2 separate regions of the Homo sapiens genome follow, and region 1 is linked to region 2. The links come from fine-mapping of genetic effects on plasma protein levels. Region 2 holds a variant in brackets. A gene starts in the other region. All regions are shown on their forward strands.

Region 1 (16,482 bases), not on the chromosome of region 2:
AAATATCCCTAAGCCTCATCTTTGGGGAGGCAGATTTGAGAGCTGGTCTCCCACCTCCTCACCTGGCAGCTTTGTAAATAAATATTTTGTCTTTTGCAAATCCAGGTGACTGTGACTGACTTACTGTGCATGGGCAGAACAGACCTGGACCTGGCTGATAACAATTTTCTCCTATTTTTCTCTTAAAGTTTTATGGATTTATACCTGTGATCCATTTTGAGTTAATTTTTATATAAAGTGTGAAATTTAGGTTGATGTTCATGTTTTTACCTGTGCACATCCAATTGCTCCAGTACCATTTATTGAAAAGGCAATCCTTCCTTTATTTAATTGCATTTGCATTTTGTGAAAAATCACTTGGACATATTTGTGTAGTCTATTTCTGGATTTTTCTATTCTGTTCCATTGATACATGTGTCTACTCCTCTGCCAATACCACACAGTCTTGATTATTGGTTATGTTTAAAAAGTTTCTGAACTAATTCTCAGTGTGGCCTGAGAACCATTTCTGAAGCTAGAAGAAAGTCTCCAAGAGACTGACTAGTCCAATTATCCCCTGTAATCCACAAAGGTATAGTCAAAGTGTGCTGTACTGAGAGTCAAAAGACCTGGGTCTTGTAGTCTCAGCTCATCAGGATGTGGCTGAGTGACCTGGCTAGGTCTTTTAGTCTGAGTCCCAGTTTTCTCACCTGTGGAACTGGGATGCTCATACAGCACTTGTTTAGCCTACCCTCCCAGTATGCTTGTGAGTGTAAAAGGAAATATATTTGATCTATATGTAAGGTTTAGACTTAAGCATAATTCAAATACAAAGGGTTCTTATTTTAGGGATAAGCACAATGAGATTCAGAGATTAAGGTTCTCCTTACCCAAAGTCATCTTCTATTTGACTTCGTGGCACCCATCAGAAAATTTCACATATTATTCAGCACATACGTAGTGTCCAAACTCTGCCAGGCACTGTGAAAAGTCCCTGGGGTACAAACACAAAAAGACATGGTCTCTGCCTTAAGAATCTTTCTATTTAGTGAGGACATAATTTTACAAAAGCTAAGTGAATACAAATTAAATTTGTATTGAGTATTCCTTTAGAATTCCAGGACCCTCCTAGTTGGATGAGTCCACAGGACAATAAATCATTGTCCTAGCATCTCTGTAAGTCCCCAGCTATACTTTCAGACTTTCACAGGGATGCACACTGACTTTGGTAGAGTCAACAGGAAAGAGGGTTTTCCTGGACAGAGCTAAAAATCCTGTGAGGTTCACACACTTGTAACCCCTTCCCAGCGATCACCATCTACACTCCAGGATTCCTCTGCCATCCATTTATTAATCAAAAACATCCCACAGAGCCTATTCAGGGCCCAGATGTCAGGCTTAGTATCTGGGTGATAAAATAATGTATACAACAAACTCCCATGACACGAGTTTACCTATGTAACAAACCTGCACATGTGCCCCCGAATATAAAATAAAAGTTAAAAAAATACAATTTTTAAAAAATTTAAAAAGTGTATATTGCCTACATCAGGTGGGGCAGATCGTGCAGACAGTGGGCATTCCCAAGGGTCAGCCTGCTTCTTCTGTGTGCTCCCAGGTCTCATTTCATGAATTGATTTCAGCCAAGGACTATCTATAATGTAACTGCATGTGGACTAGCTTTGTCAGAGAAAAGACTGGATGTAACATTCTTCTACGTAGCCGGCACTGAAGAAAATCTTCTTTGGAAAACAAAGGCTATTACTATTAAATCACTTAAACATTATTACATGCTATTTGGTACGTTCCAAGTGCATGAGAGTAAAGCAAAACACACAATAGCAAAACATGATCTACTGCAGCAAAATCAAAATTCAGTTTCTAGAGTCACAGCTGGAGAGATGCTCTGATGTAACCACAAGTGCCATCCCAGCCACTGGTGAGGCTCTACTGCCCCCGGGTGGCTGAAGTCCTTCTCTGACAAAGCTGCCGGTGCTCTCATGCTGATAATGTTACAGTGATTTTTACAAGGGCAGAGTGGATGTATGAATAGTTGGATGGATGGATAAATGCATGGAGGGATTGGGGTATTCATTCATTTAATAGTATTTAATTTCAACTATTTTTCCACACATGGGGCCAAGAGCTGTTAAGACATGATGTTTGAGATCTGAGATGTAAAAAACTGCATTGGTGTTAATTAAGCTAGAGCTGTGGTCCTAGCTGCTCAGTGCATTGGTCCCAGGAGAATGGGGCGGGGCGGGACGGGGCGGGGAGGGGGGTGGGGTGGGCGGGGTAAGAAAGGATTAAGGAAGTGACCTAAGATAAGAGGGGAGGGACTTCCCAAATATACTTCTTCTAGGGAGACAAATATAGCTCTGGCTAACCCATAGCCTATTAACTCATCACTTGGGTTAACAGGAGAAAGAATAAAAAACAGTAAGTGTGGGGTTAGATGTATACTAGAAGGAATACAGGGAAAATCCAAGGTGGGAACAGGGAGAGTAGGCAGAACACTTTGCTACACTGAAAAACAAAGTCAAACAGGTTAAAACAAGATATGGCACTTGACGTGACTGGTCTTCAAAGATGATGCCACTCAGTATTAGTTACTATACTATTGATGGATATGCAAACTGGTACATTTATTTTGACATAGTGGTTTCACAATCAGGAATTTATTGTCTAGAATTACTTGCATGATATACAGAGAGAAGAACAGATGAGACCACCTGTTATTCGTTTCACCTGGACTTAAATAATAGAGTTAAGACACTTCGAGATGAGGAGTTTCTTCTGGAGATTGAAGATTGTGCTGGAAGTTGTCACTGTAGCTGGGTTAGTATTGTTAGCTCTTTTTAAGGGTCTGTAAAAATTCTACAAGATTCCCAGCGATCTTTTTAAGATTCTATAAAAATTCCCAGTCTTTTGATTTCAATTGAACTCAAATATGCATTTATTGAGCACCTGATGAATGCACACTACTTTGGCTGGGTTTTAGGAGGTTGTGATGCAGGGATAACTCAGATCAGATTCCTTCCCTCAAAGACCTTGGTCTAGAGAAGCCTGGCTTGTAAAAACATAAAATACAGAATTTATGGTGAAATAATGGCTACAATACAGCATTATGAAAATATGGGATAGGGAAGATATGATACATTCTAACTGGAGGGATGATGGAGGGGAGATTCCCAGCAGATGTGGCATTTGAGCCTTGAAACAGAATTTTGACAGCTCTAGGGGAAGAGGGTGGGGGAAAGTGGGGAAGGATTCTTTTCCTTTAGGTTGGAAGAGCATGTGTTGCTATTTATTAAGTCTTTATTGAGCACCAGCAAGGTGTTGTGTAAAATAGACAGCATAAAAACAACTATAAAGGGGAGATAAAATACATCCCTGAAAAAAAGTCATAACAGTAAATGATACTGTTTGATTACCTATCAAAACAGTCTACAGAATCCAGAGGTGAAGCAGAAATGCAGGCTACTTTTCTCTGGGTAGTGAATTAGCCACTTCAAAAATATTTCAGTGAAGTCAGTAAAGGAAAACATGAGGCATAATAAGACATTTCTACCACTAGCCCTCCTTTCTTCACTAGATTTTGTAAAAAGTTACTGTTTCTATTTTTAATTACATGAGTAATCTTGCTTCAAAAAATTCAAGGGATAAGAAAAAGTAAAAAGCAAAATTCTCCCTTCAAAATCCCCTGTTCTCCTCCAATCTCATTTCTCTTTCTGGAAGTAAGCACTATTATCAGCTTACTGTGTTTCCTTCCAGAATGATTTCAGATGAATTCATGGAAATATGTAACTGGTGTAATTTTGCATAAGTGGATATATGTGTTTTTCTGAACTTTTTTACTCAACACCATATTTTAGAGAATTTTATATGTTAGCACATAGACCATGGAGTACAGAGCTACAACATTTTTTTTTTTAAACTGGAATTCCACAATTAGGATATACCTTGGCTATTTCACCGTTTCCTTTTTAATGGTTAACAAGATGAAAACTGCTAAAGTCTTATTGGGGTTTTTATAACCAAACAAGGGAAAAACGACTCCAACTCTGGGCCTAAAAGACATCCTACTTGAACCTCTCACTTGCAGTTCCTCATTCAATCCCCAAACTGCAGTGTGTTTCACAAATCCAGTCTCCTAAGTGAAGGGAAAGCAGGAAACCCTTGACGAATTCAGTAGTAATACAATGAGATAAGTATGTGCTGTGATTCTTAACTCCTAGCCTTCTCCAAAGGGACCAGTGATCATCTAGGGATAAATATGCACTGAAAAAAAAGGAAAATCGCAGTATGCCACAGTAGTTCACTGGTTAGAGTGGGGTTTACAGGGGTGAAGTAATTAAAGGAATTTTAACCCAAGTCCACCTTACAGTAAGTTCGATGGAACCCTAAACCCTTCCAGTGTTTTTTCCCCAATTCCTGAGTGTACATTTAAAGGACATAAGGCAGAATCTTCACATTGGTTTCCTAACCTTTAGAACAAGGGTGAGCAAGATAGAAAAGACTATGAAGAATCCACAGAGCTTTATTACACTCTCCAACCCCCAATCAAAATAGTAATGCACAAGTTATAACAATCCCTTGTTGACTAGCTATAGTGTCACCCTAAAATATCTGAATCAATTATCTTAATTTATACCTGCCTTCCAGCTTGACTGGTAATGAAAACAGATGGACCTGGAAGAATGACTGACAATTATTAACTCAATTAAGTAGTGTACCCAACTGCAGGTGCCTTTCCAAGCATGGTCTCTTTCAAGGAACAAATCAACAGAGACCCTTGTATGTAGCTATTGCTTACGCAAATGCTTTCTCCTCCTCCATTTAACAAGCACTTACTGTCTTACAGTTTCTGTGAGTCAGGAATCTAAGCGTGGCTTAGCTGGGTGCCTCCATCTCTGGGTTTCTCAGGCAGCTACAATCAAGATGTCAGCCGGGCTGTGGTCAACTCCAGGCTCACCTGGGGAGAATCTATTACCAAGTTCACTCACCTGATTGTTGTCAGGCCTCAGGTCCTTACTGGCTGTTGGCTGGAGACATTGGTTCCTCAACATGTGTCCGGAATTGGTGGGTTCTTGGTCTAACTTAAAGAATGAAGCCGTGGATCCTCGTGGTGAGTGTCACAGTTCTTAAAGGCAGCATGTCCGGAATTTGTTCCTTCTGATGTTCGGATGTGTTTGGAGTTTCTTCCTTCTGGTGGATTCGTGGTCTAGCTGGACCAGGAGTGAAGCTGTAGACCCTCATGGTGAGTGTTACAGCTCTTATGGTGGCCCATCTGAGTTGTTCATTCATCCCGGTGGGTTCGTGGTCTCACTGGCTTCAGGAGTGAAGCGGCAGACCTTCGCAGCGAGTGTTACAGCTTATAAAGGCAGTGTGGGCCCAGAGTAAACAGCAGCAAGAGTTATTGCAAAAAGCGAAAGAACAAACCTTCCACACGACAGAAAGAGACTCCATAGGGTTACTACTGCTGGCTCGGGCAGCCTGCTTTTATTCCCTTATCTGGCCCCACCCACATCCTGCTGATTGGTTCACTTTACAGAGAGCTGATTGGTCCGTTTTGACAGGGTGCTGATTGGTGCATTTACAATCCCTGAGCTAGACACAAAAGTTCTCCAAGTCCCCACTAGATTAGCTAGACACGGGGTGCTGATTGGTGCATTTACAAACCTTGAGCTAGACACAGAGTGCCCATTGGTGCATTCACAATCCCTTAGCTAGACATAAAGGTTCTCCAAGTCCCCACCAGACTCAGGAGCCCAGCTGGCTTCACCCAGTGGATCCCACACCCAGGCGCAGGTGGAGCTGCCTGCCAGTCCCCGGCCCTGCGCCCGCACTCCTCAGCCCTTGGGCGGTCGATGGGACTGGGCGCCGTGGAGCAGGGAGCGGCGCTCCTCAGGGAGGCTCAGGCATGGCAGGCTGCAGGTCCCGAGCCCTGCCCTGCGGGGAGGCAGCTAAGGCCTGGCGAGAAATCGAGCACAGCAGCTCCTGGCCCAGGTGCTAAGCTCCCCCCAACTGCCCGTGGCCAGCGGGGACGGCCGGCCGCGCTGAGTGCCGGGCCCACCGAGCCCGCCGAGCCCACGCCCACCCGGAACTCGGGCTGGCCCGCAAGCGCCGTGCGCAGTCTCAGTTTCCGCCGGCGCCTCTAGTCTTGCTTCCCTCCAGTCCATTCTTCATGCTACAGGAAGAGTGAGTTTTCTGGAATACAAATCTAATCACAACCGTTCCCAGCTCAAAACCTAGCAGTACTCTAGTACTGGTGCCTCAGACTAAAATCCAAGCCCCTTGCTTCCTGAGGCAGAGATGAGTGTACGTGAATTTTTAAAAATAACCATACAGAAAAACAGATTCTTTGGGATGTGCAGTTCTGCGAATTTTTATTTTTATTTATTTTTTTGAGGTGGAGTCTTGCTCTGTCGCCCAGGCTGGAGTGCAGTGGCACGATCTCGGCTCACTGCAACCTCTGCTTCCCGGGTTCAAGTGATTCTCCTGCCTCAGTCTCCCAAGTAGCTGGGACTACAGGCGTGTGCCACCACCCACGCCTGGCTAATTTTGTATTTTTAGTAGCCACGAAGTTTCACTATGTTGGTCAGGCTGGTCTCGAACTCCTGACCTCAGGTGGTCCGCCCACCTCGGCCTCCCAAAGTGCTGGGATTACAGGAGTGAGCCACCGTGCCCGGCCTTCTGTGAATTTTAACACATGTATAGATTCTTGTGGCCACTGCCATCTATTAGTCCCCAAAACAACCTCATGCTATCCTTTCATAGTCGTACTCTCCCTCATCCCTACCCCTATCTTTTTAAGAAGGTCAAAGAAATGGAATGTGATCTTTTGAAAAACAAAAACACCCAAGCCCCTTAGGGCGTTTTTAATGCCCTTGCCTACCTCTCCTCCCTGTCCTCCAACAACTGCCCTCCCAAGCCCCACAATGCAACTCGCCGGAACTATGCTCAGTTCTTGGGGTGCTCCAAGCTGTCCTCCACTTAGCCAAGCTCCCCACCCGCTTCCGGGGGTGGGTTTCCACTGTGCACAACAGTACCTAGCGCTTCCCCCACTACAGCCCCCTTTCACGCTGTGGTAATTGCCAGGTTATCTGCCTCTCCCATTACAGTTCCTTCCTCACAGGGACCGCGTTTAAACCACGGCGGTATCCCTACCGCGCAGGATGGGCCGAGCCCCGCACGCCCCGAGGCAGCACCCCGCACGCAGTAGCCGGGCGTCGAGGCGTTCCCAGCCCACACCAGGCGCGGACCTACGAAGGCGGAGCGAGCATGCGCACTAGGAAGGGGCGGGGCGGGGCGCGCGCGATCCCCCGCCCCCTGCACGCGGTCCCAGGAGGGGCGGGCCTTGGCCGCTCGCTCTCCCCTCCCCCATGCCGCTGCGCTTGCGCGCTGGGGACAACCGTTGCTGGGTGTCCCAGGGCCTGAGGCAGGACGGTACTCCGCTGACACCTTCCCTTTCGGCCTTGAGGTTCCCAGCCTGGTGGCCCCAGGACGTTCCGGTCGCATGGCAGAGTGCTACGGACGACGCCTATGAAGCCCTTAGTCCTTCTAGTTGCGCTTTTGCTATGGCCTTCGTCTGTGCCGGCTTATCCGAGTGAGTGACGGGCCTGAGGAGGCAGCGGACCGGGGACACCCTGGGGGAACTTCCCGAGCTCCGCGACCTCGAAGCCTGGCCCTTCCTTCTCCCTGGTCCTACATGCCTCCCTCCCCCACTGTCCGGGGTCCTGGCCTCGACGCCGAGGGGTGTCCCTCTCCTCTCCTGGTCAGGGAACGCAGCAACTGAGGCGGCGCGGCCCAGATGAGACGGGAAGCGCCTGCGGGCCGTGGGCGCGGGTGGAACCCCCTCACCTCACCGGAGGCCTTCCTCTGCCCACCCGATCCTTCCCCAGCCATTGGGCGTGTGACCGTGCAGGGGTCGTGTGACAGCTGCTGGCCAGCTAGGAATGATTTTTACATTTTCTTCCTTTTTTTTTAATTATTATACTTTAAGTTCTAGGGTACATGTGCACAGCGTGCAGGTTTGTTACATATGTATCCATGTGCCATATTGGTGTGCTGCACCCATAACTTGTCATTTACATTAGGTATATCTCCTAATGCTATCCCTCCCCCCTCCCCCCACCCCACGGCAGGCCCTGGTGTGTGATGTTCTATTTTTGCATTTTCAAAGTAAATATGAAATGTACTCTTTCATGACTTGTGGAAAAGCATGACGCTCACATTTCATTGTTCGTGAATAAAGTTTTACTGGCACACCACCACGCTCATTCCTTTACGTATTGCCCATGGCTGCTTTCCCACGTTAGAACAACGGGGTTAAGTGGTTGCCACACAGTCTGGTCTGCAAAGACTGAAGTATTTACTCTCTGGCCCTGTACAGAAAAAAAGGTTGACCCGTACGGTAAAATTTGGAGAGCATGTGGATTGTGGGTCGCGGTCTGGGACACTCACCTGAGGATGCGCTCCCAGAGAGCATGCTTGCGCACACGGCATTCAAAGCCTTAGTTAAGCAGGATTATAACTTAAGACCTGCCAAGGAGCAATTTTTGTCCCTCCCCGAAAGCTGAAAACCAATAAGGTCAAATTCAGGGGTGCTAAGACTTTACTATATTAACAATATCATGTGGGCACCTTAAGGCACTTAGTATTTAAGTCAGGTAGGTGAGGCTTCCCCATTTAGTCTAACTGTAGTTCATTGTGGCATTTAGTAATGTTGGAGTTTGGTTTCACTTAAATCAATAAATACAATTTAACAGGTGTAAAAAAAGCGCTATCGTGCATGCTGATTATGCAAATCTATTTTTCAGAATTGCTAAACGATCTTAGTTAAAAATCAAATTTAAAAACTGAAAATACAACACAATCTAAATTATGAATAGTAATGGGAAAAGTTCTAGATGAAGTTCTAGGTAACTAAAGTTAGCTCTTTAAATACTAGCATTTATGATTTGTAGCTGTTTTTAATAAAAAGTTTTGTAAAATTTTTCTTCCTTGACATAGAGGACCAGAACATAATGAAGATGCTACTATCTTTTCTTGATGTCTGATGATCATTATTACTAACACCAGTTATTGCATTTTGGTAGTTGTAGATCAGCAAGTCACAAGTGACTAACATATATGGAGACTTTAACTGAAGTGACTTTAACACTGTCACACAGTACACTCTGGGACTGCTAGGTAGGAGTCCCTGGACACCCACTTAACTCAGTGCAGTCTCTTGCCTAACACCATAATTTTCCCCTCCCCCTCCCCTTCCCTTTTCCCCCCCTTTTTTTTTTGCCTGAGACAGGGTCTCACTCTCTAGCTCAGACTAGAGTGCAGTGGCCCGATCTCGGCTCACCGCAACCTCTGCCTCCCAGGCTCGAGGGATTCTCCCACCTCAGCCTCCTGAGTAGCTGGGATTATAGGCGCACGCCACTACCGCCTGGCTAATTTTTGTATTTCTAGTAGAGACGGGGTTTCACCATGTTGGCCAGGCTGGTCTCGAGCTCCTGACCTCAAATGATCCATCCGCCTCGGCCTTGCAAAGTGCTGGGATTACAGGCTTGAGCCACTGTGCCCAGCCAGCCTGTTGTCTTTCTTAGCACCCTATTCCCTAATCTTTCTTGGGAAGAAAGAAAAGGGTTGTAGGAAATGAAAAGACGCTTCCCAGAAAAAAGGAGTGATTTTGTGTTGAATATATAGATGTTATAAGACATAAGGAAACTATATACAGGTTGTAATCATAGAAGATGTCTTGGAATATGTAATTACCTTTCTTCTACAGAAGTGGATTAAGGAATATATAGAGCAGGCAGTGGTACATGGCTGCTTTCTCTGTATCTGTCTCTCTACTTTTTCTCTAATTTTAATTTTGTTTTTAAAATAAGTATACCAAAATGCGTATATCATTGAGCTTGATGTAAATCAGCTATGCATTCTTTTATATGGCCACTATTCAAACAATTGTTGGCGAGATGCAAAAGATAAGGTACATAGGTTTTTATAATGAAAAGTGCAGCTTTGACACATTTTTTCTAGACTACTAGACAGTTTTGAGGTTATTACGCAAACATCACGGGTGTATTAAGTAATTGCATTTATTGAAAACCTCAGTACTTCTTGTATCTGCCTATACCTTTCTAACAGGCCCAATCCAAGCTTAGCTAGTATTTGTTTAATCTAAATTCAGTTAGACATAAATGCAGCTTGGGTATACAGAAGTCGGCACTCCTTTACATACACACACACACATCCTGATGGTGCTGGAGAAACAACGTTTTACTATATAAAATTTTTATACATTCAGTTTCCTCTACCTGATTTTTCCATAGTTTTAAATACTTTGCCATTTTTAAATTTTTGAATGGGAAAGTATTTAATGTATTCCCTCTTTAATGTATTTGCACTGTGCAACTTACTTTACTTTTTAATGAGAATTCTTTTTGCTTTAAAAAAAAAAAAATGCACAGGCCGGGCACGGTGTCTTACACCTGTAATCCCAGCACTTTGGGAGGCTGAGGCGGGCAGATCACCTGAGCCCAGAAATTCAAGACCAGGCTGGGCAACATGGCGAAACCCCGTCTTTACAAAAAATACAAAAATTAGCCAGATGTGGTGGGGCAGGCCTGTAGTCCCAGCTATTCGGGAGGCTGAGGTGGGAGGATCACCTGAGCCCAGGAGGTAGAGGTTGCAGTGAGCTGAGATGGCGCCACTGCATTCCAGCCTGGCTGACAGAGTGAGACCTTGTCTCAAAAAAAAAAAAAAGCACAGTAACTTCTAAAGTAATATTAACATAATAGTTACATATTTAAATAATATCAACTACTATTAAAATTATATAATTGGCCTTTTTAAATTTTAAGTCATCAAATATTCATGGGCTGGCAGTGCAAACTAATTAAAATTAAAGTGTGTTAATATTAATTTAATATTAATATATGTTAATTTTTAAATGATTCAAACTTTGCATAATAAGTATAAATAAAATTAAAATATTAATTTTGGGGTATCTCCCAAATAAATTATTTCCTCTAGATCATCTCTTGGTATAGACTAGGAAAAATAGGGTTAGTCTAGGATTACAAAAGCTCTTATTTCTAGATTGGTATTATAAGAAGGCTCAATGTATCAGTCTTTGGCTTCTGTCATTGTGTTTAGGAAGGATTTTGTCCTAATGAACCACAGAAGGTAAGGGAAACAATAAGGCAGCAACCAGCAACAATTGTTTGAATCTATCACCAAATAAATTAAGAGGAAAAGAATATTCTTTTATTTCAAATACATTCTAAAGGTAAAGTTCACTGAGTTCTGGTGCTGCAAGTTCACTTAGCTAGTGCCCAAGGCTACAGCATTTAAAAGGTCTCTCAAACCTGTGAATAAACTGTCATGACACACTTTGTTAATGTTTGAGATAATGAGGAGCATGTCATCCAATAGGCAAGTGTCAAGAGAGTATTCTGTGGGGGAGTAGCAGGAAGTTTCATTAGCCTGTCCATTGATGTTTTATGGGGGAAAAAAGTCCTGTCTTTCTGTTCTGTTGATCATATTATCCCTTAAATGGATATACTTTAATCTCTTGATAATATATGTGAAATTAAACTTAAGCAACATTTTTTATCTCCAAATAAAATACTAGTTATTTGAAAAGAAAATATTTTCTTTTTTTTTTAGTATCACTATATATTTGAAGCATTTTAAAAACACACAATTTATTTAACCTAAGTATAGTTTTTTCCGAGCCTCAAATATTCATACCTTGACCATTTGGAGCCATTGTAAGCTGTCTTCTCTTGTTCTTTTGATAGGATCCCATATATTTTTAAAGACTTCTTGTTTTCTGATGTTAACTGATTGTTCCAAGCCCACTTTGTGTCTTTCCCACTCTATCTTTCTCACTCTGAATGGAATTAACTGTCTTTCCAAGGGGATGGAGAACATGGTATGAGAGACCAAAGTGCCTGCGATACATACTAGACTACTGCAGTGGGGAAATATTGTTATTTTTGTCATTTTAGTGAACAGAACTAGAAGAGAAAGATTTAAAATAATGAGTTTATTTTGGTTTCAATTATAACATTACTCATAGGATGCATCTTGATTTTTAACTCTTTATCCGCACTAGAATTGTAACATAATTTAATAAGGCTATTTTGGTTGTGTATTGTGGCAAAAATGACTGCTCCCCAAATTTATCATTTTTCATGATTCTATGGGTTCACTAGACTCAGCTGGGCAGCTCTGCTTCATATGGTATAGCTGAGGTCACTCATGCAGCTGCATTCAGCTGGAAGTTCAAATGGATAGGAACATCCCAGATGGCCTCTCATCCTCCAGGGTCTTTACATGACTTCTCATCTTTCAGTACTCTAGCCCAAGTTTCTTTACACCATGGCAGCTTGCTTCCAAGAAGGAGATTTATAAGCCCCAACATGGATGCTCTTACGAAGCCTACACTGTATCAGACTTGCTAATGTCCTATAGGCCAAGACAAGTCACATGGGGCAAGCCCATATCCAATGTCAGAAGACACTACCCAAGAACATGAATAGCAGGAAGTGTAAAGCCATAAAGTTACATTTCTTTAACTGGAACACTTGATTAATATGAACATAATTACTTGTTTATTTACCTGTCAGCAAAAATTAAGATTTGTGTAATAATAAATTATAAGAAAATTGCTGGATGAATAAGAAGATTTAATATTTCCTTTTATGACCATTCCTTGAGTACACCTCAGTAATTAAGCACAATTATTACTACTTTGAGTTGGAAATACAGTACTCCAGCTCAGTTCGTTTTAAAATTTTAACCTTCATAAAAGTTCATTTTAATTTGAAGGTGTTGGATATTTTAACTGGTAGTTCTTGCATTATTACAGCTTTCAGTTATTAATTCTTACTTTAGTACTTAACTGCTGTAGAATAAGGGAAGTTTATTCTTTATGAGTCCACTTCATGGTATGTATAGAAAATACAAGCAATTTGTTCTCCAAAGTTATGGACATTCAGCCAGAGTGTGTGGACCATCTATAAGTGATGGATGCTTGGGTATATGTTTAAGTTTTATATACATGAGTTCTTTATGGATAAAGCCATTTTGTTTTCACTATCATTGTAATAAAAATCCTAGTTATATTCAAATCTTTAACAAAATGAGCATCCATAATTGGTGATTAAATTTTGGGTGCAATCAGCAGTTGCCATATCAAGGCTACTGGCCAAGGGCAAAGTAGAAATGTATGTGTATCTACACAATGAAATATTATTTGGCCATAAAAATCAATGAAGTACCGATACATGCTACAACATAGATGATCTTGAAGACATTACGCTAAGTATAAGAAGCCACTCACAAAAGGACACATATCGTATGAGTCCATTTATATGAAATGTCTAGCATAGGCAAATGCGTAGCTACAGAAAGTAGATTAGTGGTTGTCCAGGGTCTGGGGGATAAGGGATATGGGAAATGGATTTTACTGTGGGATGACAAAACTGTTTTAAACTTAGATTGTGGTGGTGATTGCACCACTCTGGACATACTGAAAACCATTGAATTTCATACTTTAAGATAAATAAAAGGTAAATTATGGAGGTATTTTAATATTAAGATTGTGATTTACTTACATTAAAATTATGTCAATGCAGTATTACTTTAGAGATTGATAAAATTCAATGAAAGGTAATTAGTAGAACATAAGTTTATGTGATCTAAACTTACATTAGGCTATTTAGTAAGGGGCAGTTACAAGAAGTATGGGGGCTCTCTGAGAAATGGAGCTATTTCACCATGATGTTTATGATGTTATTTTATATAAACTTCACACTTAGAAATTTAGAAAGACGTAGTAAGCTGTGTCTTTTATTATAAAAAACTGCTTACTTTGCCTAAAATAAAAGAACATTCTTATTACTCATTTAAAATTTTCTCTGTAATAATTATTGGACAATTAGCCAGAAACTGCTCCCCACACAATAGTTTTTAGACTAACAGATTTATTTTTAAACATAACATGAAGTCTAGTTTTCTTCCTCTGTATTCTTCTGTAGAAATGTTTTACCTGTGATTATCTTAGTAAGATAAATTACTAGAAGTGCAATTAATTTACATACCTTCCAGCATTCTGTTCATTCATTCAGTTATTCATACTTTTTGACTGTCTAGTATGGTTCTAGGCACTGGGTAAAACAGAGTATATAATGAACAAATTAGATGTGTCACAGCTCTCAAAGAGCTTACTAAGTGTAACAGTTAACAAATATTAAACTAACAAATACAGTTAGAACTGTCTAAATTCTATAAAGAAAAGATCAGTATGCTAGAGAGAGACTAAAGAAGGATCTAGGGATCAAAAGGGGAGTAAGGATGGAACTTATTATTTTTTTTCTTTATTTCTTCTAAAAAAAAAACAGGATCCATGTGTAGAACGTGCAGTTTCTTACATAGGCATACGTGTGCCATGGTGGTTTGCTGCATCTATTGGCCCATCCTTTAAGTTCCCTCCCCTCACCCCCCACCCACCAACAGGCGGTGGTGTGTGTTCTCCAGGGGCTGGGGTATAGGGGATATGGGAAATGGGTTTTATTGTTCTCCTCTCTGGGTAGGAGGGAACTTATTTTACTAAGGAAGTAACATATACACATGCCAGTCCTAGGTTTTATCATTTAAAAATATTTGCCTACTTGACTGGCAAAACAAAAATTGTTTTTAATTTGCATATCTTTTATGAACAATGAATTTTAGCAAGTTTTCATGCAAATTGGCTTTTATGTTATTCTCTTCCTCCTTTAATTGGTCATTCTATGAAAAGGAAATATATTTCACATGTATTATTTATTGAGTGAAGTTTTAAATTTTATTTATTTATCTATTATTTTATTTTATTTTTTTGAAATGGAGTTTCACTCTTGTCCCCCAGGCTGGAGTGCAATGGCACAACCTTGGCTTACTGCAACCTCTGCCTCCTGGGTTCAAGCGATTCTCCTGCCTCAGCCTCGAGAGTAGCTGGGACTACAGGTGCATGTCACCATGCCCAGTTAATTTTTGTATTTTTAGTAGAGATGAGATTTCACCATGTTGGCCAGGCTGGTCTCGAACTCCTGACCTTAGTTGACCCACCCAAAGTGCTGAGATTACAGGCGTGGGCCACCAAGCGCAGCCTGAAATTTTATATTTCATTGCTCATTTTAAATCATGATTTTATTATTTTCCTCATAATAAACTCAAAAGTAATTAACTTGCCTTTTATTTCTGTGTGAACGGGATGTATTTTTTTGTAAGTCATTGATTGTCAGTTACTTGTACTTTGTAGTAAGAAAATACTGTATTTGGATTATTTTCAATATTACTAGATACATCTTAATATGCGAAAGGGATGCATTTTGGTCCATTTGATGATAGAACAAAATTTGGTCATATTTAATTTAATTTAATTTTAATATTTACATGTAGTTTAAAATATTTTGGTCCAGTTGACAGCACAATTTCGGATACTATATTTATTTATTTGATTTTATTTAATGTTCACATGTATTTTAAAACAGAGTAGTATCCCTGCAGAATAATTTTATCACAACACTAATACAGCTTTGCCAGCATCCTTGTGTCATTTCTTTATGACAACATTGTGTGGTTGTTACAAGCACCTGCTTTGAAGTAAGGCAGCCTGTGTTCAAATCTCATCCTTACTTATAAGTTGAATATAATCTTAAGCAAATTGCTTATCCTTTCTAAGTCTCTTCCTTTTCTTCTTTGACAAAGTACTTCTCACAGTCAAAGCTCTGGGTATAGTGCCTGGCACATAGTGATCATTCAATCAGTGGAAGCTATTAGGATCTTTTAAATCATTATCTTCCATTTCCCCTTTGGATTTCCTACCACTTTTGTTCCTACAGTTATTTAGTACCATTTTGTTTACTTTCTTACCATTTCTGTTGTGTGACAGTTCTTCCTGTACTATTTCAAGAAGAGAAGTGCAGGCAACCTCAGGCTCACCTTCAGGCCCCATATCTGAGATTCCAGCAAAATCTCAAGCCTGCTTAGCAGTTAGCCATCCTGCTTATAAGAGGAACTGGAGAGCAGCATCATGGTTTCCCAAGCTGAAGATTCTTACCTGGGCCAGAGCCATGTTCTAGGACATTGCCATGTTTGCTTTAATCACTTACTGGTAAAAATAGATGGGATATTATAAAGTATACCAGTGTAGACTATGAATATCCAAGTATAATAACACAACTTCTAGCAAGATTGTCTGTTCCTTGTAAGAATTTGAATTTTGTTCAGCTTTCTAGCACCTCCTGAAGAATGGAGAAAAACAGGTTTTCACAGTGGCCACAGCCATCTGTAGGGACAGTTGAGGCTCCACTATCTTTTACTACCTTGACCTACAAACATTTTTATAAAGATCAAATTGATTTGCAAGAGCAGACCTGATTAGTAGAACTGAGAAGGTCAACATGAAATAGGGAGATGTTTTAGGGGACAAAAGCAGGAGGTAGAAGGTGT
Region 2 (16,482 bases):
ATGGGTTATTTATGACCACACTGCTGCAACCACTCTATCACAACCATTCTGGTGAAATAATAATAATAATAATAATGGATTAGAAGGTACTTTTAGAATATCTTTCTGATTCTATTGCAATGTTAAATTCTTGTCTTTATTATTTGTCATATAGAAGTCTGTACTTCAACAAAAGATGCCAAGAATTTCAAGTTAATATCCTCACACATATATTCTCACTAGAAGGGCACTGGTGTGTTTGCAATCAGGGTGGAGCATTTCTGGCTTTGCTTGTGCTACTTTGATTGTCTAAAATAGAAAGACAGGAAGTAAAGTGGAGTCAGCCATGACATATTGAGCTTCTACAGCAACAACATCTGAATTCTTGTGTTACGTCAACTAGAAGTAATGACAGTATTTTATTTTATTTTGTTTTATTTATTTATTTATTTAGAGACAGAGTTTCACTCTTGTTGCACAGGCTGGAGTGCAATGGTGCGATCTTGGCTCACCACAACCTCCACTTCCCAGGTTCAAGTGATTCTCCTGCCTCAGCCTCCTGAGTAGCTGAGATTACAGGCATGCACCACCACACCCGGCTAATTTTGTATTTTTAGTAGAGATGGGGTTTCTCCATGTTGGTCAGGCTGGTCTCAAACTCCCGACCTCAGGTTACCTGCCCACCTCGGCCTCCCAAAGTGTTGGGATTACAGGCACAAGCCACCACATCCGGCCTGTTATTTTACTATATTTATTTTTAAAATTGTAATTCATTTATCCTGAATATATCACTGGGCCCAGAACCTAGGTGATGTGACTCTCCTGCATTATCTCTGCCCATAAGTGGGATTATTAAATATACCTGGGCCTACATAGGTATACAGATGCTACAATGACTCATATACCTGGACACAGCCAAGAGAAGAGATTTTGACTCTCATAGGTTGGCTTACAACAATGGATAAGGTCCTGGGTCTCCTACTTGTACCAAAGTCAAAGAGAATAACAACATTCACACATATCATATAAATTCCTCAAGTGGCACCAAAAGTGTCAACAGGGCCAACCATGCTGAAGAGACTGTGACTCTCCTATGCACACCCAGCTGACTGTAAGGACTGTCACCCTTCCAGATGGACACAGACCACTGTGGAGGTTTTGAATGTCACACCAAGAGTGAGTCAAAGGTTGGAATTGTGACTCTCACACATGGATGTGGTCCACAGGTGGAATAATGACTCTTGGACCTCAGGTGGAATTGGGGCTCTCATGCAGGGATTCAGTCCAGCATTCAGACTGCTTTGCATTCTTGGACCCAACCCACAGGAGATACTGGCTCTCATACATAACCCGGGATATGTGCAGGATTGTAAATGTCATCCCTGGACCTTTCTGCGGGTGTAATTGTGACAGATATTTTTGCCTAGAATCTGAATGATTTGACTCTCCTGCCTGGGCCAAGCCCACAAATGTGATTGTGACATATACTCAGGCCAAGCACCTAGGTTATGTGACTCTCCTGCCTGAGCCCTGCCCTCAAGGGAATTGTGACATATCATTGAACCCAGCACCTAGGTGATGTGGCTCTCCTCTCCTGCCTGGGCCCTGCCTACAGAGAAAATTGTGACATATTCCTCGACCCAGCACTCAGATAATGTGACTCTCCTGCCTGTGCACTGCCTACACAGGGCATGGTGGCCTATCGCCAGGCCCATCAACCATGTGATGTGAATCTCCTCTCTGCCTGAGCCCTGCCCTAAGGATTGTAAAATATTGCTGGGCTCAGCACCCAGGTAATGTAACCTTCTTGCTTTAGCACTGCCCAAAGGAGAAATTGTGACATCTATCTGGGCCAATCTTCTAGGTGATGTGAATCTCCTCTCCTGCCCCCTCCCTGCTCTGGGACTATGACACATTACTGGACTCAGCACCTAGGCGATGTGACTCTCCTCTCCTGTCTAGGACCTGCCCAATTGGTGACTGTGACACATCACTGGGCCTAGCACCTAGGTAATGTGACTCCTCTTTTGCCTGGCCCCTGACCACAGGTTGCATTGTGACATATCACTGGGCCCAGCACCCAGATGTTACTCTTCTTCTGCCTGGGTTTGTTCACAGATGGGATTGTGACATGTGCCTGAGCCCAGCATCTAGGTGGTGTTAGTCTCCTCTCCTGCTTAATACCTGCCCTGGGTACCGGGCAAGGCAATATGTCACAATGCCCCCTGAGATCAGGGCCCAGGAAAAAAGTCACATCACCTGTGTGCTGTGCCCAGTGATGTGTCACAATGTCCCCTGGGGAATAGAGTTCAGGAAGGAGAGTCACATCACCTACATGCTGCATCTAGTGATATATCACTTTCCTGCCTAGGCTCTGCCCACAGAAGGCTTTGTGACAGATCTATGGGCCTGTAATCTAGGTCATTTCACTTATTTTGGGGGGACCTTATGCACAAAAGATTGTGACATATTTCTGGGCACAGTACACAGGTGAGGTGACACTCCTGCCTGGGCCTGGCCCACAGAAGGAATTATATCACTGCTTCCATCACCTAGGTGAGGTAACTCACCTCTCCTGCCTGGGCCCTGCCTACCGGAAGAATTGTGACATAACACTGGGCCCAGCACCTAGGTGATGTGACTCTTTTGCCTTGTTCCTTCCCACAGGTGAGAGTGCGACATACCTGGGCTCAACTCACAGCTGTGAAAATAACTCATTCTTGTACCCAGCCAATAGGAGAGATTTTGATTCTCATAGATACATTTAGGGCAACTGGTAAGGTCCTGGGTCTCTTACTTTTATGAAGATAACAGAGGATTATGACACTCACACATATCATATAAAGCCCTTGAGTGGTACAGAGAGTGTCAGAACATAGGAGCAGGGCACAGTGGCTCACACCTGTAATCCCAGCACTTTGGGAGGCTGAGGCGGGCAGATCACCTGAAGTCAGGAGTTTGAGACCAGCCTGGCCAACATGGTGAAACCCCGTCTCTACTAAAAATACAAAAATTAGCCAGGTGTGGTGGTGCATGACTGTAATCCCAGCTACTCGGGAAGTTGAGGCAGGAGAATTGCTTGAACCCGGGAGGCAGAGGTTGCAGTGAGCCGAGGTTGCGCCATTGCACTCCAGCCTGGGTGACAGAGCAAGAGTCCGTCTCAAAAAACAAAAACAAAAACACAGCACTCAGATGAGATTATGACTCTCATATTCACACTCAGCTGCCAGAATTGTCACCCTCAAACATGGACACAGCCCACTGGTGAGGTCCTGGATCTCACAGGAGTACACAGTTGGAATTGTGACTGTCATACGTAGGCCTGGCCACAGGTGTGACGCTGACTCATTTCTGGACACAGCACACAGGGACAATGATGACTTTCATACCTGAACCCAACCAATAGGAGAGATGTTGACTCTTGTACCTAGGACAATGAGTAAGATCCTGGCTCCATACCAGCACAAATTTCCAGAGCAGATAGCAACTGTCTTGCACACTGTATAAAGCCCTTGGGTTACACAGAGTTTCATAACATGGCCCAGCACACAGAAGCGATTGTGACTCTCATATGCACACCCAGCCAACAGTAAGGATTGTCACCCTCTATCATAAAGCCACCCCGCTGTCGAAGTTCTTAATCTCACACCTGGATTCAGTCAAAAGTTGAAATTGTGACTCTCCTACGTGAATGTTTTCCACAGTTGGATAATGACTCTCAGACCAGGATTCAGAACACTGGTGAGGCTGTGACTCCTTTACTGAAACACAGTCCCCTGCAGGCAGGATTGGGGATCTTATGCACAAATCCAGCTAACCCTTAAGACTGACTCATGTACTTGGACCAAACTCACAGGCATTGACTCTCATACCTGAAGCCAGGACATGTGTGGAATTGTTAAGCTCTTCTCTGGACCTTTCCACAGATGTGGTTGTGAGATATATCTTTGCCTAGTACCTGAGTGAGGTGCTTCTCCTGCCTGGGTCTGGCTCCTAAATAGGATTGTGAGATATACCTGGGCCCAAGCTCTCAGGTGATGTGACTCTCCTGCCTGGGCCCTGTCATAATGGGGGATTTTGCTATAATGCTGGACATAGCTAGGTGATGTGACTCTCCTGTCCTATCTGGGCTCTGCTCACAGGTGAGATTGTGACACATCGCTGAGCCCAGCACCCAGGTGATATAGCTCTGCTGCCTGGGCCCTGCCCACACAGGGCATTACGGTATATTGCCGGGCCAAACACCCAGTAATGTGACTCTTTTTCTGGGCCTTGTCCTCAGGGTGCATGGTGATATATCACTGGATCTAGCACACAGGTGATGTAAATCTCTTGCCTGGGTCTTGCCCGTAGGAGATATTGTAACATATCGCTGGGCTCAGCACTCAGGTGATATGCCTCTCCTGCCAGGGCTCTGCCCACAGTAGGGATTGTGACATATTACAGGGGCCGACACCTATGTGATGTGTCTCCTTTTCTCCCTTGGTCCTACCCTCAAAGAAGATTGTAACTTATTGCTGGGCCAAGCACCCAGGTGATGGGACACTTCTTCCTGGGCCCTGCCCACAGAGGAAATTGTAACATATTTCTGGGCCCAGAACCAAGGTGGTATAATTATTTTGCCTTAGCTTTGCCCACAAAAAGGATTGTGACATATTCCTGGCCCAGCATCCAGGTTATGTGGCTCTCTTGCCCTGTCTCTGCCCACATGTGGGATTGTGACATATCAGTGGGCCCAGAACCAAGGTGATATGAGTCTCCTGTCTGTGCTCTGCCCACAGGGGAGATTGTGACACATTGGTGGGCTCGGCATCCAAGTGATGTGAGTGTCTTGCTTGGATTTTACCCAAAGAGAGTATTGTGACACACCTGTGGATGTGACTTTTCTGCTTGATCCCTGCCCACATTTGAAATTGGGGCCTACACCTGTTTCCATCACCTAGGTGATGTAGCTCTCCTTCCTGGTCCCTGTCCAAAGGGAGGATTGTAACACACCTGCTTCCAGCACCTAGGTAATGTGACTTTCCTGCCTGGGCCCTGCCTCCAGGTAATTGTGACATATACCTGAACCCATCTTCTGAGTTGTGTTGCTCTTCCTCCTGGGTCCCACCCAGAGGGTAGATTGTGGCATGTACCTGGGTCCAGCACCTAGGTGATGTTACACTTTGCCTGGACCTAGAACACAAGAAAAGATTTTGACAGATTTCTTACCACAGCACCTAAGATATGTGACTCCGCTGCCTAGGCTAAAGCCACAAGTGGGATTACATAATACTGGGCCGAGTACTGAGGTGATTTGAGCCTTTTTTAGGTCAAGTTCTCAGGGGGACTGACATATACCTGGGCTCAGGAATTAAGGTGATGTGGCTGTCCTGCATGGGCCCAATCCACAGAGAACATTGTGACATATACCTGGGCCCAGACCATAGGTCATGCGACTCTCTCACCTAGGTCAAGGCCACAAATGGGATAGTGACATATAGTTGAACCAAGCACCTATGTGTTCTGACTCTCATGCCTGGCCAAAGTCACAAGGGGCATTGTGACATATACCTGGGCCCAGCACTTAGATGATGTGACTCTTTAGCCTGAGCCCACCCCACAGGGAGTATTGTGACACATACCTGGGCTCAACACCTATGTGAGGTGTACATCTAACCTGGGCCAAGCCAACAAAAGAGATTGTGACAATATACCAGGGCTAAGCACCTAGACAATGTGTCTCTCTTACCTGGGACCTGCCCATAGTGGGGATTGTGACACATACCTGGTACCTAGGCTATGTAACTCTTCTGCCTGGGCTGAGGCCATAGGTGGGATTGTGATGTAGAGCTAATTCCAGAACCTAGGTGATGTGAATCTCCAACATGAGCCCAAGCAACAGGAGGGATTGTGACACATACCTGGGCCCAGTACCTAGGTGATGTGGCTCTCTTGCTTGGGACCTGCCAAACAGGGGACTTTAATATACCTGGGCCCCACACCTAGGTGATGTGACTCTTCTGCTGGGCCTCGACCATAAGAGAGATTGCGATATATACATGGGCCCAGCCTTCAGGTGATGTAGCTCTTCTGCCTGAGCCAGGCTCACAGGGGGAATTGTAAGATTTAGCTGGACCCAGCTCACAGGCAATGATGACTCTCATACCTGGACCCAGTGAAGAGGAGACATTCTGACTCTCATAGCTAGCCTTAAGGAAATAGGTAAGGTCATGGATCTCATACTTGTACAAAAGTCACAGAGAGGTTTGTGACTCTCAAGCATATCACGTAAAACTCTCAGGTGGTAGAGTGTCATAACAGTGCCCATCACGCAAGTGAGACTGTGGCTCTCATGCACTCCCAGTTGAAAGTTAGGATTGTTACTCTTACACATGGACACAGCTCACTAGTGAGGTCCCCAATTTTATAGCCAAACATACTGGACAGTTGGAATTG[T/C]GACTCTTCTATGTGAATCTTGACACAGGTGGGATGGTCATTCATTTTTGGACCAAGCCCACAGGCATGATCATGAGTCTCATACCTGGACCCAGCCAATAAGAAACATTTTTGGCCAGGTGCGGTGGCTCATGCCTGTAATCCCAACACTTTGGGAGGATGAGGTGGGCTGATTACGAGGTCATGAGTTTGAGACAAGCCTGGCCAATATGATGAAACCCTATCTCTACTAAAAATACAAAAATTAGCCAGGCGTGGTGGCACACACCTGTAGTCCCTGTTACTTGGGAGACTGAGGCATAAGAATCTCTTGAACCCGGAAGGCGGAGTTTGCAGTGACCTGAAATCGCACCATCGCACTCCAGCCTGGGTAATAAAGCGAGACTCTGTCTTGAAAAAGAAAAAAAAAAAAGAAACATTTTGACTCTTCTGTTGGGCTTAAGGCCACAGGTAAGATCATGTGTCTATACCATCATGCAGGTCTCAGGGAAGATTGCAGCTCTCATGCATGCTGTATAAAGCACTTGGTTGGTACATAGAGTGTCATAAAAGAACCCAGCACACAGGAAAAATTGTGATTCTTGTATGCATACTCAACCAAATGTTAGAATTATCAGCCTCACACATGCACACAACCCACTGTTGAGGTTCTGAATCTCACACCCAGAAAAGTTGACAGTTGGAATTGTGACACTCATCCATGGATGGAGTCCACAGGTGTGATGGTTAATACTGAATGTCAACTTGATTGGATTGAAGGATACAAAGTATTTATCCTGGGAATTGAGAAAATAACAAATTATCCCATAACATTTACTAATTATCTGAAGATAGATCCTCAGAAAATATATTACTGGGTTAAATGATGTCTATGTAAACTGTTCACAGTTACAGCCAGATGACTTTCCAAAAGGGCTGTAGCAGGTCCATCGGCGCTGGCATTCTCTGATGCACCTGCTGCTCTGTATCTAAGCTCTCCTGCATATTACATTCTTTTAATTTTTGTTGTCAGTTTGTGTCTATATGGCAAATAAAATCTCATTGTCCCTTTCACTTTCAGTTTTTAAACTGACACGTTTGAGTCACCTTTCAGTTGTTTAAGACCTATTAAGATTTTCTCTTTTTTGAGTCATCTGCTCAGATCTTTGGCCCTGTGATGGGCATTCTCCCACCCTGGAGTTTTCCAGCATTTGCCCCTTTGCCAGTTCTGGGATTGTTGTAGTTATTTCTCCAGACTCCCTTTAATATTAAAGAAAAAAAAGCAATTGGCCGGGCGCGGTGGCTCACGCCTATAATCCCAGCACTTTGGGAGGCTAAGGTGGGCGGATCATGAAGTCAAGAGATCGAGACCATCCTGGCCAACATTGTGAAACCCTGTCTCTACTAAAAACACAAAACGTAGCTGGGCATGGCGGCGCTCGCCTGTAGTCCCAGCTATTGTGGAGCTTGAGGCAGGAGAATCACTTGAAGCCGGGAGGCAGAGACTGCGGTGAGCCAAGATCATGCCACTGCACTCCGGCCTGGTGACACGGTGAGACTCCATCTCAAAAAAAAAAAAAAGGCGGGGGGATTTGCATGGGGAGAATCCTATGGAGGACCAATAAAATCTCAGAGAAGTGAGCTCGACATAAAGCAAAGAAAATAGACTCGCTTTCAGAATTTTTGACATTTTTGCCTTTTTAGTAAATTATCAACACTTTGGAAATTATGTTTTATTTCAATATTTTTCTTTTCTTTGCAAAATAGGTATACACCCAAACTCACACAAACACAATTACTTACTCCGTAACTCCTTTACTTCTAAGATTTATCCTTAGAGGAATATATTTGTATATTTTATCCTTGTAAAACAAGACTATCAGTCTGCATATATTTTGCAAGTCAGAAAGGTGACATGTGCAAAAAAAAAAGTGGAATAAAATTTTGTAAATACTCATTCAATATTCAGAAATACATGGCTTTAAATTGTACTTTTATATAATCTTCATTATTACCATTATAATGGCCCTGTAGTTACAAAAAGAATAAAAATATTACCAATAGAAACAATATTCTTTAAACTGTTTGATGTTTAAAGTTATTGAAAAAAGGGATCCCTAAAAATGTTATTCAACTATGTTAACCAATAGTGTATTGTTATCATCTGTTACCTACAAGCTTCAGTTAGGTTGGATAGGTTAACACTGGTAAAAAAATAATACTTTGTTCAATGCACAATAGTAGAAACAAAAACAATTATGCTTAATTAAAACAAATTAAGTTCACACAGAATCTAAATTTTTTTTTAAATCCACTGTATCTTATTATTTTAATAAGCAATTGGAAAAACAACTTGAATTGAAGATCTAAAATGTTTCTCCCTTACTATAATGCATGGAATCTTACTCTAAAAACCTACCCCATGTATCACATGCTGTTGTTAATCAACCACAAAGCACTTCCCCACTTAGAATCTCTTGATATGTCTTACATTTCAGTGTCTATGAAAAACTATGTGAATGATGCTTGTCTAATAGAGATGTGCCTCTTATAGGTCTGATGAAGCAAAAACTAACCATGTGCTTTTGTATACACACTAAGAATGAAGGCATAACAAGTGATCTAAGAGTTGAATTGCAGCCGGGCATGGTGGCTCACGCCTGTAATCCCAGTATTTTGGGAGGCTGAGGCAGGTGGATCATGAGGTCAGGAGTTCAAGACCAGCCTTGCCAAGATGGTGAAACCCCATCTCTACTAAAAACTGCAAAAATTAGCCAGGCGCAGTGGAAGGTGCCTTTAATCCCAGCTACTTGAGAAGCTGAGGCAGGTGAATCGCCTGAAGCTGGGCTGCAGAGGTTGCAGTGAGCCAAGATCGTGCCACTGCACTCCAGCCTGGGTGACAGAGTGAGGCTCTGTCTCAAAAAAATAAAAAAGAGTTGAATTGCATCAATGTTTGCTTTTCAAGAATTTTAATTTTTTAATGCAAAAAGTATGCTTTGAATGTAATTATAACTCTCCAGAAGAAAAATCAATCTCCTCCTTTTAAATGTACATACAAATAAATTAATTTTTTGGTAATTCTTTATAGAAACAAAGTCTTGCTGTGTTACCCAGGCTGGTCTCAATCTCGTGGGCTCAAGTGTTTTTTTCACCCTAGCCTCCCAAAGTGCTGGGATTACAGACATGAGCCATGGCACCTGGCCTTCAGCAATTTTCTAAGCTTCCCAATGACACAGTATATTGTAAAAATATACACGGTAGCCTGGGTGCGGTGGCTCATGCCTGTAATCCCAGCATTTTGGGAGCCCAAGGCAGGCAGATCACAAGGTCAAGAGATCGAGACCATCCTGGCCAACATGGTGAAACCACGTCTCTATTAGAAATACAAAAATAAGCTGGGTGTGGTGGTATGTGCCTGTAATCCCAGCTACTCAGAAGGCTGAGGCAGGTGAATCACTCGAACCTGGGAGGTTGCAGTGAGCCGAGATCATGCCACTGCACTCCAGCCTGGCAACAGAGTGATACTCCTTTTAAAATATATATATATACACATATATAATATATACATGTGTACATATATATAATATATACATGTGTACATATATAATATATACATGTGTACATATATACAATATATACATGTGTACATATATAATATATGTATATATAATATATACATGTGTACATATATATAATATATGTACATATATTATATATGCAATAAATACATTAAGCTACATTACCATAAGAAATTTGGTCATGTAGTGTTTAAATTACCTATCTCAATTTATATTAAAAAAACTGAAAATCGGGGCCAGGTGCAGTGGCTCACGCCTGTAATCCCAGCACTTAGGGAGGTCGAGGTGGATTGATCACCTAAGGTCAGGAGTTCAAGAACAGCCTGACCATCATGGTGAAACCTCATCTCTACTAAAAATACAAACTTAGCTGGGCGTGGTGGCAGGTGCCTATAATGCCAGCTACTTGGGAGGCTGAGGCAGGAGAATCGCTTGAACCCGGGAGGCAGGGGTTGTAGTGAGCCAAGATCATGCCATTGCACTCCAGGCTGGGCAACAAGAGCTAAACTCCATCTCAAAAACAAAACAAAACAAAAAAAAACCTGAAAATTAAAAAAAAAAAATAGATTTTCTTACATTTACAGAGGTACTTAGTGTTCTGATAAAGTTACTGAGTACAAATATCTCTAGAAACACATCTGAAACCATCACAGAATAGAAAGTCATAAAGTAGAAAACTCACATCTTTATCTGGTGTTCTTGCGATTTTGAAACCAAATTTCAATATCACTACTGCTTTCACACATTTCAGCAATGATGTAGAAAGGATTTAAAATAGTTTCATACAGAGTTTCTCTAAAAGACAAATAGTCTCATGTCCCCCAATAGCAATGGAAGACCTGTCAGATTATTCAACCTCTTATAAACCATAAGATGGACTTCAGCTCTAAGTATAAGCTTGAAGGAAGATTAAATTAAAGTAGAATTCTTGGGGGATTTAAGACCATGGGACAGAAGCTGCCCCACTGTTTGGGTATGAGAAAAGAAATCAGGCATTTTAGAAACTATTTCTATTGCAGCAGACCTTCCTAAACCACATTTTATGGTCTGGCTTTCTTCTTCACCTTTGGACCTCAGCTGTGTCATCTTCTTTCACTCCCGCCTACCTAGGTGCTGGCTATGGTCTCTTGTCTTTCTAAATTCCAAGATTCTTTCCTTTGCTTCAGAGAGTTGATCAGGCCCAGATTAGACACAGCAAGATCTGTCTTATTAGAAAAAGGAAACATGAGTTTTGCTGGATTCTCCAATTACCAGACTAGTACTTAGTACTGTGCTTACTAAAGAAAAAGAATATTACAGATAATGTAAAGTTAATATCAAAATACCTTTTCTTCGACAGAATCTTTAGAATATTTAGAAAGTATTTTAAATTTGTGGGTCCTTAGCTCACTACCCAGTAGTACTACTGAATCAAAAGCTGGTGGTGAAAATTGGATTTTAAAATATGAGCAACATTTTATGCTACTAAATTTCTATAATTACCACTAAACTAGAGTGAAGAATGTCAATCATTCAAGAAAAAAAGGTTAATCTCAAAATAAAACATATTGGGCGGGGCACGGTGGCTCATGCCTGTAATCCCAGCACTTTGGGAGGCCAAGGTGGGTAGATCATGAGGTCAAGGGTTCAAGACCAGCCAAGACCACTGCACTACTTTTTTTTTTTTTTTTGAGACAGTTTTGCTCTTGTTGCCCAGATTGAAGTGCAGTGCCATGATTTTGGCTCACTGCAACCTCTGCCTCCCAGGTTCAAGCGATTCTCCTGTCTTAGCCTCCTGAGTAGCTGGGATTATAGGCATGTCCCACCACGCCTCGCTAATTTTGTATTTTTAGTAGAGATGGGGTTTCACCATGTTGGTCAGGCTGGTCTCAAACTCCTGACGTCAGGTGAACCACCTGCCACGGCCTCCCAAAGTGCTGGGATTACAAGCATGCACCACCGCGCCCAGCCAAAAAAATTCTTTTTTTATACTAACAAATTCCCCAAATTTTCTAGACAGCAGGGATCTAAAACTATTCATTGAAAGCAAAATTATGTTTAGGAATATGGAGCATATTTTTATGTTTGTTGGCTTCTTGTAAGTTTTCTTTTGAGAAGTATCAGTTTATGTCTTTTGCTCATCTTTGTGGGGTTATTTATTCTTCTTTAATTAATTTTTTTATAGGTTCTGGAAATTAGACTTGTCAAATGCATAGTTTGCAAACATTTACTCTCATTCTGTAGGTTGTCTGTTTACTCTGTTGATAGTTTCTTTTGCTGTGCAGAAGCTCTTTAGAATAGTTAGGAAGTTGGGAAATTGTCACTTTTTGTTTTTCTTGCTTACTTTTGGAGACTTAGTCAAAAATTCTTTGCCAAGGCCAATGTCAAAAAAGATATTTAGTAGGTTTTTTTGTAGGATTTTTATAGTTTGATGTCTTAAATTTAAATCCTTAATTCATCTTGTGTTAATTTTTGTATATGGCAAATTGTAGGGGTTCAGTATTATCTAGTATTTTTTTCCGCATACGGTTAGCTGGTTATCCCAGCACCATTTATTAAATAGACAGTCTTATTTCCATTGCTTATTTTTGTCAATGTTGTCAAAAATTATATGGCTGTAGGTGTGTAGCTTTATTTCTGAGTTTTGTATTCTGTTCCACTGGTCTCTGTCTGCTTTTATACCAGTAATATGCTTCTTTGGTTCCTGTAGCCATATAGTATAGTTTAAATTTGGGTAGAGTGCTGTCTCTGGCTTTGCTCTTTTTGCTTAAGATTGTTTTGGGTATTTATGCTCTTTATTGTTTTATATAAATTTTAGAATAGTTTTTTTTTTAATTCTCTGAAAAGTTTTATTGGCAGTTTGATAGAGATAGCATTGAATCTGTAGATTAATTTGGCCAATGGGGTCATTTTAATATTGATTCTTTTAATCCATGTGAATATAATGTACTTCCATTTGTTTATGTCATCTATGATTTCTCTTAGCAGTATTTTGTAGTTCTCTTTGTGATAATTGTTCACCTCCTGGGTTATATGCATTCTTAGGTATTTTTTTGTGGCAAGTTAAATGGGATTGAGTTCTTGATTTGGCCCTCAGCTTCAATAATATTGGTGAATAAAAATGACTTTTGCGTATTGACTTGGTATTCTGAAACACTACTGAACTTGCTGATAAGTTCCAGGAGCTCTTTAGTAAAGTTATTAGGTGTTTTTAGGTATCAAATTAGATAATCCATAGAAAGAGATAGTTTGACTTTTTTTCCCGTAATTTGGATGCCTTTTATTTCTTGTTCTTGACTGATTGTTCTGACGAGAACTATTATTAATATTTTGTCATTAAAAGTGAATAAAAATTCTATCACTCTCCTGCTTCTACTTCCCTTAACTCTTACATTACAGCCAAAAGAAATCTTTACATTTCTCATTTTATTACAATAAAAATATGTATTTTACCAGAAAAATAAAACAAGAATATGGTTAAAAAAAACCCAAAACATATATCAAATTTAAAATTTTCTACAATAAAATAAAATCGATTGAAACATGTAAAATAAAAGAAAGCAGCCAGGTGCAGTGACTCACGCCTGTAATCCCAGCACTTTAGGAGGCCAAGGTGGGTGGATCACGAGATCAAGAGTTCGAGACCAGCCTGGCCAACATAGGGAAACCCTGTCTCTACTAAAAATACAAAAATTAGCCAGGCCTGGTGGCACATGCCTTTAATCCCAGCAACTCAGGAGGCTGAGGCAGGAGACTCACTTGAACCCGGGAGGCAGAGGTTGCAGTGAGGCGAGATCATGCCTCCGCACTCCAGCCTCAGTGAAAGAGTGAGACCCTGTCTCCAAAAAAAACAAAAACAAAAACAAACAAAACAAACAAAAAAACAAAGTGCAGGTGAGTGCTTCGAACTGAACACCTTAGAAGCCCTAGTCCATTGTGGATGCACTGAAGCCAAGATTGTCACCAAAACTCAGTTCTCTGTTCTCCAGAGTCCAGGATCTGTAAAACTCTGCATTTAAAAAAGCTCTCAATGTTTTTCCAGGGGAGACTGTGTTCATCTATATCCTATCTCTTCTCACCTTGATTCAAATCCTACCTGATCTAGCGGTGCTGTTTCTGGTTTTGAGCTTAGTTTTCTGTAATTCTCTTTCTTATTTGGATTGTGGTCTGGTCCTAGTCAGAAAGGAAGTTTAGGTGACTCAAATCTCTCTAGATCCAGAGTCCCATAGTCTATTCCTGACTTACATTTGTTGTTCATTTTCTTAACTAAGGCTGTTCAGCAAGCATCAAGAGTTAATGAGAAGAATACGGTTCCAAGGGATCATTACTACAATTCTCAAAGCCATCTCAGGGATATAAGCCATTTCTCATTCCCTAGCTCAAAATAAAACCCTACCAAAGACACACAGCTTACTATCCCTCATTCCACCACTCTTTCTGATCTTAATATGAACAGCCCAAGGCCTTATCTGGCATTTGAGTGCATTACCTACTGGAATGGGAAGAGAGCACCTTGTCTTTTTTCAAATAGTTTCTCCTCCTCATCTAAGCTTCTATCTGTAAAAAAGATTTGTTGAAAATGGAGCTGGCAAGTGGGGCCTTGGATGAAGAGGTAGAGAAGATCTTGGTCTTCAGTTTCCCATTCCATGTTGAAACTCAAATGAAATGTCCTCTCTCTTACACATCCAGACTCAGAATGCAGGGTGTTATGCTGGACTTGCCTTTTATAAGCCCCTCAGCTGGGTACGGCTCACTCTTATGACAAGAAATTTATTTCCTGGAGACATTATGGCCTTCATAAGGAATGTTTCAGGTTGTGATTTACTGGGTACCTTAGACACACATAAGGGGAGATTTTTTCAGGGTCCTGTCATAGCATCAAAAACCAAAATAACAAAACCAGCCAGGTGAGGTGGCTCACACCTGTAACCAAAGCACTTAGGGAGGCCAAGGTGGGTGGATCACCTGAGGTCAGGAGTTCGAGACCAGCCTGGCCAACATGGCGAAACCCCATCTCTACTAAACATACAAAAATTAGCCAGGTGTGGTGGCGAGTGACTGTAATCTCAGCTACTTTGGAGGCTGAGGCAGGAGAATCGCATGAACCCAGGAGGTGGAGGTTGCAGTGAGCCGAGATCATGCCATTGCACTGAAGCCTGGGTGACAAGAGTGAAACTCTGCCTCAAAAGAAAAAAAAAAAACCAGTAGGCATGAAAATTGAAAGTCAAGAGACTCATCCCCTTTTGATTTCTAGCCCTCTTTTCACCCAGAACTATTAAAAACCTTGGCCAGATTTTAAAATGCTAAATTAAACAGACCATATATTAACAGGTATATTTAAATTGTACACATAAAGAAAATTACATAAAGGCCAGGCACGGTGGCTCACACCTGTAATCTCAGCACTTTATGAGGTTGAGGCGGGCGGATCACTTGAGGCCAGAAGTTCAAGGCCAGCCTGGCCAACGTAGTGAAACCCCGGCTTTACTAAAAATACAAAAATGAGCTGGATGTGGGTGACATGTGCCTGTAATCCCAGCTACTCGGGAGGCAGAGGTGAGAGAATCGGTTGAACCCAGGAGGCAGAGGTTGCAGTGAGCCAAGATTGCACCATTGCACTCCAGCCTGGGTGACAGAGTGAGACTCTGTCTCAAAAAAAAAAAAAAAAAAAGAAAAAAAAAGAAAAAAGAAAATTACATATACCATTAAAATTGTATACCTATATGTCACAATTTTTCAAATGCTTGGAAATGACATATCAAATTATAGTTGATTGCATTTGATAAATATACAATAAAATAAAATGCAGAACAACCAAACTCCAAATAGAATATGCCTTTGTCTCTTGAATGTTGAAGAGATACTTAAATCAAATGTGATCACATTGAATTGATCAGATAGGAGCCAGTGCTAACTCAATCAACCACTGATTCCTAAGGCAGCAAAGAGCCCAGCTGGAGAAGCAAGCTTCTCCTCTACCTCACCCTCCCTCAGTCATCCTGGGTGCTACATTGTCTTCTGTAGAATTTGCTCAGCATTCACTATCTGAGCTGACAAATTTGGCTAGATTATTATCACAACCCTAACACATTTTGGTTCTTTGTTCTTGTTTCTTTGTTTAAAATAGGTTGTGGATATAACTATTACATCATGAAACTTTTTTTTTTTTTTGAGATGGTGTCTAGCTCTGTTAGCCAGACTGGAGTGCAGTGGCGTGGTCTGAACTCACTGGAACCTCCACCTCCCAGGTTCAAGCGATTCTCTTGCCTCAGCCTCCTGAGTAGCTGGGATTACAGGCGCCTGCCACCACACCCAGCTAATTTTTTGTATTTTTAGTATAGATGGGGTTTCGCCATGTTGGCCAGGCTGGTCTCAAACTTCTGACCTCATGATCCGCCCGCCTTGGCCTCCCAAAGCACTGGGATTACAGGCATGAGCCACCACACGTAGCCTACATCATGAATCTTTAGAAACCCAGTATGGTACTTGTCTGGGTCTAGTCCTAAAAATAATAAACAGATCCAAAAAA

Which allele goes with the higher level. Positions count from the first base shown, and alleles are read on the strand shown. Strength reflects both the effect of a copy and how common the allele is.
For the plasma level of the protein whose gene starts at base 7,396 in region 1, allele T in region 2 goes with a lower level than allele C (weak association).

Evidence for each region. PIP is the chance, under the fine-mapping model, that this variant and not a neighbour inherited with it causes the effect. Protein levels are from antibody-based Olink assays in UK Biobank. Linkage for the fine-mapping came from a reference panel and not from the study's own genotypes, which makes the PIPs less certain.
Region 1: it holds the start of SPESP1, and the variant in region 2 is fine-mapped to the plasma level of the SPESP1 protein (UK Biobank, PIP above 0.99).

What each region holds. Positions count from the first base shown.
Region 1 is chr15:68,923,130-68,939,611 of GRCh38, forward strand. SPESP1 (sperm equatorial segment protein 1) reads left to right here and starts at 7,396. Exons shown (of 2, transcript NM_145658.4): 1 at 7,396-7,588. The coding sequence starts at 7,525. SPESP1-NOX5 (SPESP1-NOX5 readthrough) reads left to right here and starts at 7,396. Exons shown (of 17, transcript NR_033672.2): 1 at 7,396-7,588. RefSeq lists a silencer at 4,072-4,272.
Region 2 is chr19:20,966,335-20,982,816 of GRCh38, forward strand. LOC112268247 (a long non-coding RNA gene) reads left to right here and starts at 5,824. Exons shown (of 2, transcript XR_002958424.1): 1 at 5,824-6,183. The variant T/C (reference allele first, on the strand shown) is at 6,418.